Linked DNA regions of Homo sapiens: region 2 is linked to region 1. Evidence: fine-mapped expression QTL. A gene starts in region 1. The other region holds a variant in brackets. All regions are shown on one strand. Distances are between the middles of the regions. Region 1 holds the start of SLN (sarcolipin). Region 2 has its middle 31 kb from the start of SLN.

Evidence for each region. PIP is the estimated chance that this variant, and not a neighbour inherited with it, causes the effect.
Region 2: its variant is the best candidate, but not a certain one, in a credible set for the expression of SLN in cerebellum (GTEx, PIP 0.58).

Annotation. Positions count from the first base shown.
Region 1 is chr11:107,709,467-107,713,866 of GRCh38, forward strand. It overlaps SLN (sarcolipin), which reads right to left and starts at 2,590. Exons shown (of 2, transcript NM_003063.3): 1 at 2,497-2,590.
Region 2 is chr11:107,741,082-107,745,481 of GRCh38, forward strand. No RefSeq gene overlaps it. Among named protein-coding and RNA genes, the nearest start is that of SLN, 31 kb to the left of the region's middle. RefSeq lists enhancers at 45-545, 119-248, 546-1,046. The variant T/C (reference allele first, on the strand shown) is at 2,284.

The DNA of each region.
Region 1 (4,400 bases):
GTATTGATTATATTATCAATGGACCAAATTGTTAATTGCATAAATGCCAACTGAATGATCATTTTTCATATTGTGTAATTGGCATAACATACAGGTTCAGCCAGGCATGGCAGTCGGTACCTGTAGTCCTAGCTAATTGGGAAGCTGAGGTGGGAGGATCCCTTGAGCCTAGGAGTTTAAGACCAGCTTAGGCAACATAATGAGACCCTGTCTCAAAAAAAAATACAAGTTCAAATCAGATGGTGCCAACCAGTAGATATATAGCCAAATGATGACAGATTTATATTTCATCTCCCTTTTAATTATTATCCATCTTTTAGACCTCAGCATGAAGGAAATAGTAAATTGCCAATGAAAACCATTACAAATGGCTGGGCGTGGTGGCTCATGCCTCTAATCCCAGCCCTTTGGGAGGCTGGAGTGGGAGGATCACTTGAGCCTAGGAGTTCAAGACCAGCCTGGATAACACAGCAAGACCCTGTCTCTCCAAGAAAATAAAAAGGGGAAAAAATAGAAAATCTTTACAAAGATTTGCATGGAGGAGAAAGTAAACAGAATAAAATGAATGGATCAAGGAAAAAGGATTTATGAGAATGTACAAAAGAGCAGAGGAGAACAGAACGGTAATGAGTCTTGCCAAGGTGCCTGGAGGCAAAGGAATGAGAAACGAAGACAGACTCTTTCTTATAAACTTATCAATGAAATAAAACCATAGTCCAAATGTCCATCTATTTGGGTAAGTTCTCAAGAAATGCAGAGATAAGCAGAAAATATGAAGCCTGGCTTATAATGGTCAAAACAATTCAAGGAGAGCAAAACAACGGTCCCACCAAATCTGCCTATTAAATTAAGCTGTTAAGTCATGGGAATCATGGATAGTGATCCAACAGGATATACTCAGAAAATGAGAAAAATACTATTGAAAGCTGTTCCACAGCTCTGTTTGTGTTACCTTCGCAACAACTCAGGCAAGTGTTACTGCAGTTTTTATCTTTCTCAAGATTACAGCTGAGAAACTGACTTTTAGAGAGAGGAGATTAAGATGTTTGTGTAATGACAGATAACAAGTTAGAGGCAAAGCTAGAATTAGCAGACTGGAACTAGTTACTAGAATTCCTAGGAGTTATGACACAAGTGAATTGTCACTGCAATTAACTGGCCTGGCTAAACAAAGTTAGCATAAATTTTCAACCACTTTGGAAAACAATTTAGCTTTCTTAGAATTAATGTTGAAAATGTTCATTCTCTAATATCTGGCATTTCACTTCTACCTTAAGACAGTCAAGGACGTGCGTGCCAGGTTACATAAATAAAGAGTTCACAGCAATATTATCACAATAACTCCAAACTGGAAACAACTCAAATGTTTATCAACAGCAGAATGGATGATAAATTGTGGTATAGTTATACATTTGAATTTCATAAAGCAAAGAAAATATATGAACTATAGCTACACAGAAAATGGGTAGATCTCACAAATATAATTGTTGGGTGAAAGAAGAATTTACAAAAGAAACAGAGAATATGACTCCATTTATATGATGTCAAAAATAGGGAGGTTAATCATATTGTTTAGGCATGCAGACATAGATGGTCAAATTATAAAGAATAACAGGGACAAGAGGATCCCAACATCTTGGGGCAGAATGGGGGTTGATCAAGAATGGGCTTCTGGGTGCTGGCAATGATCTGTTTCTTGACCTGGATGATAATTATAGAAGTGTTGCCTTTCAGTTATTGTTTAAACTGTGTATGTTTATGCACTCTTAACTTTTTTTTTTTCAGTCATTTCTGAATTAGCAGGCTACCCATCACACTTCTTTCTTTCTTGGGATTTACCTCTTACTACTTCTTGCACTTTAATGGTGACCTTGAATATTTGTTGTTTTATGTGATTTTAGATGAATAAAACATGAAGAGTTAAGGTGAGAATTTCTAGTGAATTCAATTCAATCAACACATATGCTAACTGTAAGGTGTGGTGTGAACATTCCTTTCACACACATTTATACACTTTAGGAAGAATGAACCAGTTAGGCAGAAATTCAGATCAGCCAAGTTCCATTTTTCTGCTTTTAACCAATAAAGACACTTTGGGTTTCATTTTAAACATTCCCTGAAGTCAAGGTCATGCCATATGATCCAGTGATTGCAAATGGATGAACTAAAACCCAAAAAGCTCTGAATAAATTGTGCAGGAAGTTTGACATTGGCTTTCTTTGAATGGAGACTTAGAGAAGATAGAAAAAAGACCATCTTCCATAATACAAGAAAGAAAAAAAATTTTTTTTTACTAGGAAGGGAGAAAATGCATACCCTTAGGAGAAAAAAAAAGGAAAACAGAAAGCAATAGTACTCACTTTATATCTTAAGGCATGCTGTATCCAAGGGGCATTGCCTATTTCATTAAGAAATGCAAACATTCCTCTGCCTTTCTCATTTGCAGCTTGTACACACACACACACCGTATGCTAAGCATAAAAATCCTGCAGTTACCTGAAGAGGATCAAAGACACACCCTGGCTATGGCAGGTTTCTCCTCGCTGTCTCCAACTTGAGCTCCAACTCCTTCTCCCCTCCCAGGCTGTCTGGACTCCTGGACTCTGGGCAGCGCCTAAAGTAGTCCGTGGAAGCTGGCAATCACTGTGATGTCACTGATGAAACATCTCAAAGGAACACCCTCCGAAGGTTCGAGGCTATTTGTGTTCGGGGGACATGGAAATATGTTGACTAAGACTTTGTTCCTTTGGCTGCCAATTTGCCACCACCAGGATTTAAAAACCTTCTGTTTCCAGTTGACTTTTAGTGCAATTGATGTGGGTTTTAAATGTGTCTTTTACATCTTCATGAATAACTTTAACATGTCTTTAAAACATCATAAACCAAGAATGATAGACTAATTTTAACCAATCGATGCTGCATTTGACTGCTCTCCCTAGTCAGCCTGTGAGGTGTAAAAATGTGACTTCATTTTACCACCCATATCTTTAGTTATTTGAAATGTGAAGAGTTTGCTGCCTTACACCCACACATATGCACACCCATACACACACACACACACTCCAGAATTCAATAGGCATCTTTAGCTCTTTCAAAACTGACTTTAGTCCAAGCAGTGAAAGCTATCCCCTCCGTCACCTGCTCCACGTAACTTTCCAGCTAAGCTGTGCATTGCAAGTTTACACGTGGATCTACAGTTTCATCTGAAACAGCCGAGGAAGTCATGGTTTGTATATCTCTGGCAATAAATTAATAGAGCAGTAAACTCACACAGTTCAACTCAGTTATTTGGATAGATTGGGAGTGGAAGGAGAACTGGGTAAAATTAGTGAAAAATGTGAATTATAGAATATATCTGAAAGAAAGAAAAGTATTATATAACTTTCTAATATGAACACTAACTAAAATTAGACTAAGATGAGTTTGTAACCAATGTATCACATGTTTGGAGCCCCTGAAGTGTTAAATTAGACTTGAAAGCAGATCAATTAAGTACTTTAAACATGACCCTAGCAATTGTGTTTGCTCAGCAGATCCTTTCTTTATAGATAATAGAGGAAATCTCCCCCTCTGAATTCCCAATTAGGGTCAATCAAAATAATGCATTCCCAAAAGGCATAAACAAACAAAATTCTCTATGCAGTTATGCTCATAGTCAAACCTTTCCCTCCATTCCTCATACCCCAGAGACATTACCAAAACAAGACTTTCCATTTCATTTCCTCATTTTAACATAAGCTTAGCAACGGGTAATCTTAATACAACATTCTGTCACCACTTGTCTTGTGAAAAGAGCGCTTGCTGAAGTGACAGAGAGTGTATAATAATTATAGTGCAACCGAACATTGGCAGTTATCTGTTGCCATCTGGCAAACTCCTTGAATGTAATCAGAGTTCTGTCTTCTGCCTCCAAGCTCTCACTAGATTGTTTCCCAGGCTGGGAATGTTTTTCTAGTTACCAAGCCACACCTGTCCCTTTTTGTAACCACTCAAAATTATTTTTTGTCAAATTAAAAAAGTTATATATTTATTGTAGGACATGTGAAAATATATTAAAGTATTTAAAACTTTTAAATTACTTTTAATCTCACCACCCAAAGGGGAAAAAAACAAAACTTTACTTTACTTTTTTTTTCTTTTGAGATGGAGTTTTGCTCTTGTCACCCAGGCTGGAGTGCAGTGGCGTGATCTCAGCTCACTGCAACCTCCGCCTCCCGGGTTCGAGCGATTCTCCTGCCTCAGCCTCCTGGGTAGCTGGGATTACAGGCATGCACCACTATGCCTGGCTAATTTTTGTATTTTTAGTAGAGATGGGGCTTCACCATGTTGGCCAGGCTGGCCTTGAGCTTCTGACCTCAGGTGATCCAACCGCCTCAGCCTCCCAAAGTGCTAGGATTATA
Region 2 (4,400 bases), 32 kb after region 1:
TAATGTATATTGGAAGAGTATTTTTGGTGTTGTAACTTGGGCTGTCATCCAGTAGACGGCGCTTAAGAGTAATGGCCAACAGATATGCTCTTATTTAGCTGAGTAGCTCTTCCGTATTTCAGTGGGTTTATTGCAGTGCTCTGTGGTGGGGAGGGAAGAGAGATGACTTCTTTACCAGGTCCATTCCCCTGCCTTAGGGGAGGTCCCTCCTAACACTGGCACCATGCCAACATTGCCTTCGTTAGGTGTTCCAGGTCACAGGGCTCCTTCAGGCAGAGGCTTTGCCTGCCAGACAGGCCTCACCCTTCCCAGACTGGCACTTTTGAGGGAGGCATACCCCATTCCTGCACCTGCCCAGGAACCCGCTTCTTACTCTTCTCAGTGTTCTGAGTGTGCAGGTTCCTCTCCCACTTAATCACTGGCCAGATCTCAGCCTGCCACTTCTGAGCTATGTGCTGCAACCCAGGGGTATTGGAATCTGGCCTGCAGCTTCATCCTCTGCGTTGGGCATTGGTTGTGCTGGGGGAGCTGGAGTGCTCTCAGGCTGTGAGGAAAGCACTCTGCCTGGGCAGTGGAGGCCGTGCTGTGTACCTGCTCTTGTAGGAGTGGCCAGGCAGGGGCCTTGGGAGGGGCTGGTGGATAGAGGAGCATGCAGAACAGACATGCCCCAGTCCCACAGGAAAGATGGCCCCACTCTCTCCTGGCCCAGCAGCCAGCCAAGGTTAGAGCTACTCAGAGGAAGACAGAGAATCCTGTGGGATGGGTGCCTGTGGCCACATTTTGCTGCAGCTTCTCCATGTGCAAAACCTTCTAGGCTCTGCACAGCCTGGAGCACTGTTTCTGCCTACTCTCCAGGCAGATTCCCTTGACAATTCAAACATCTGTAGGAGTCATGGGACCTCTTGTAGCTAATATCTGAGAGGTCTGTGGTGAGAGTGGGTTACCCCGCCATCACTTCACTCACCCCTTCCTTAGGAGCTGTTCAGGGCCGGGAACCAGTCCCAGTGCTCTGCAAACCTGTGCAGGGTTCCCAGCTTCCTCCCTCTTCAGTCTCAGTGTCTGCCTTACCTCTCTATTACTCTGTGTTTTCTCTCCAAAGATCTGTCCTAAGGATGTTGGTTTATTCAATATTTTGGTCTCTCTCATTGGGAGATGCTCCTTGACTGTATCTATTGGCCATCTTGTCACCTCCATCCACTTTTTTTTTTTAAGCTGGAGTTTCACTCTTGTCGCCCAGGCTGGAGTGCAGTGGCACAATCTCCAGTCACCACAACCTCCGCCTCCTGGGTTCAAGCGATTCTTCAGCCTCAGCCTCCCAAGTAGCTGAGATTACAGGTGCCTGCCACCACACCTGGCTAATTTTTGTATTTTTAGTACACACAGGGTTTCACCGTGTTGGCCAGGCTGGTCTCAAACTCCTGACCTCAGGTGATCCACCTGCCTTGGCCTCCCAAAATGCTGGGATTACAGGCATGAGCCACGGTGCCCAACCCATCCAATATTTTTAAATGATAAAATATATTCTCAATTCCCCTTCTATCCTCTTTCTCTCTTTAAAGTTATAAATCTTATGTTCGTCCCTGCAGCCACTCACCTGGAGAAGAAGGCTTGTTTAAAATGCCAAATTGGCCAGTAGCAGTGGCTCACGCCTGTAATTCCAGCACTTTGGGAGGCTGAGGTGGGTGGATCACTTGAAGCCAGGAGTTTGAGACCAGCCTGGCCAACATGGTGAAACCCCATCTCTACTAAAAATACAAAAATTAGCCAGGCATGGTGGCAGGTGCCTGTAATCCCAGCTACTAGAAAGGCTGAGGCATGAGAATTGCTTGATCTTGGGAGGTGGAGGTTACAGTGAGCCAAGATCATGCCACTGCACTACAGCCTCTGCAACAGAGTGAAACCCTGTCTCAAAAATAAAATAAAATGCCAAGTTGACTTAGATAAGTAAGCAGAACACAGGAAAGAAGTTCATTTCCATTCTATCATTCCATAGGAATCAGCCAAAAACTTGCTGAAAGTGGAAATTCAGTTTTGCCATAAAAGGACCCCTTTAATGATTTATCTTTCACCTCTATGTAACTCTGTATTTCTTTCTACTGATTTCTCCATAAAAGCTCTGCATAATGGTGTGGGTTGATTTATGAGACTCCCTTCAGCCTTTATTCCATTTTTACTTTTTCTTACTTTGTTATTTCCCCTGGTGGATGCCAGTGTTAGTATTTGACCCATACAAGGGGTGTTCAGCCAAAGACAGTCCTCAGTCAGACTGTGGCCTGAGACAGA[T/C]GGTGAGGCCAGTTGGTGCTTTGGGGCAGTCAGATTACATTTCCAAGGCGTTCTCGTGTGACAGCTGTGTGCCTTTGATCAAAACATTGAGAAACAAACCCTCACGTCTCCCTTAGCACAAAAACAGCCAGGACCCTGTTTTCCTGGATCAAAGAGAGGCATGTCAGATACTCTATAGGACTTCATATGCATTAAATACCACATTCTCAGAAGAGCTGCAGAGGCCCAGGATGACAGGGGTCACTACAGAAAGAGGACCTCTGCAGGAGGTGAGGAGGGGCTCCACCAGGGCGGACTCTCTTTGTATCTGTTGTACCCTCAGCACCTACAACAGTACCTGGAGCAATGTAGAAGCTCAATAAATATTTTTTGAATTAATTATTAAATAAGTGAGCTGCTTCTATCTGGCAAGTCCCTTACTTTACTCAGATTGACACATCATTCCTGCTCATTTTTGAAAATCCAGCTCATCTCTTTCTCAGAGTGCTTTCTTTGACCTGTCTAAACACTTCTCTATATATAAAGCTGTACTTTCAAATGGATTTCTGTTGCTTGTTCTTATAATACAGTATTGCAGTTACTTGATTGCATGTCCCTCCTCCCTTCAAGACCTTTAATTCCTTCATAGCTAAGGACAATTCTTATTCATCTCTGTACTCATGCTGCCTAGCATAGTTCCTGTATATTTACTCCTTCATCCAACGGGATTTGAGCACCCTGCTTTATTCCCAGCACTGAAACAGGCTCTGGGGATACAGCAGCGAACAAGAAATGAGCCCTCTCTATTCCCCAAGCTTAAATTTTATAAGGATTGCAGACAATTAATACGAGTAAGTGCAATGGTGGAGGTTATGAGGACACCATGGAAGCACATAGGAAGGACACCACTGCATAAAATTTGATGATCATTAAAAGCCTCCTAGAGGATGCTTCCCAGGAAAAAAACAAAGAATATCTGAAGGATAAATAGAATTGAGCCAGTAAAGTGGGGGAGTGTTCCAAGAATAGAAGAAAGGAAGACAGAAGGGAGAAACAGATGAAAGGAAAGCAGGGAAGAATGGGAGAAGTGAAGAAGAGAGGAAGGCAGGGATATTGCATTTTCTTATTTGCCTTGTAATATTTCTTCCAGTAGGTGGCCTTACCAAGAGCCCCATAACTGCTAGAGGCCACCTGCTACCCCATCTTACTTGGAGGTTCTGTTTTTACCCCTAGTCACAGAATCACAGGCTATTGTAGAGCTGAAAGGGGCTGTTAATACCTAGTCCCATCCCTCTTATTCTACACATATGAACGATGAAGCCCACAGAGGTTAGTAATAACAGTATTTTGCTTTTATCTGTTATCTTGCAAAGCATTTTTACCCCTATCCAGCGTGCATCCAACAGCCCTGTGAAGCAGCGTTATTCTTTTCTACATATCAGGAAACTGGGGTTTAAATGGAATTAGTGGTAGAGCTGGAAGCCAGGTCTCTACCAAGGGCACACCATGAGGAGCGGAGCCAGCAGGAGATGACTCCTCATCCAAACTCCTTCCAGAAGGCAAGAAGAGCTCTCTGACACCTGATGGGGACTGGCCATGCTAATTATTCACAGCATGTCCCAATTAAAAGAACACTTGTGCTGAATGCCTTATTTGCCAATAGCCTGGAGATCACTAGAATGACTGGAGTTGACTGGTCTTGCCTTCATTTGGTGTCAGATGGTAGGTCAGTCTTTTTACAAATAAAAAGAGTGTTCATTTTGGACTATTTAAAAATGTGAAATGTCTGTAAAAGCAGGACTCTATAAACCAAGTTAAGAGATAAGCCATACAATAACAAATGTTGGCAAGGATGAGGAGAAAAGGGAATTCTCATACACTCTTGGTGGGAATGTAAAATGAGCACAACCACTATGAAAAACAGTTTGGAGGTTCCTCAAAAAACTAAAAATAGAGCTACCATATAATCCAGCAATCCCACTCCTAGGTTTATACCCAAAAGACAGGAAATCAGTATATCAGAGAGATATCTGCACTCCCATATTTATTGCAGCACTGTTCACAGTAGCCAAGATTTCGAAGCAACCTAAGTGTCCATCAACAGATGAGTAGATAAAGAAAATGTGGTACTATATATA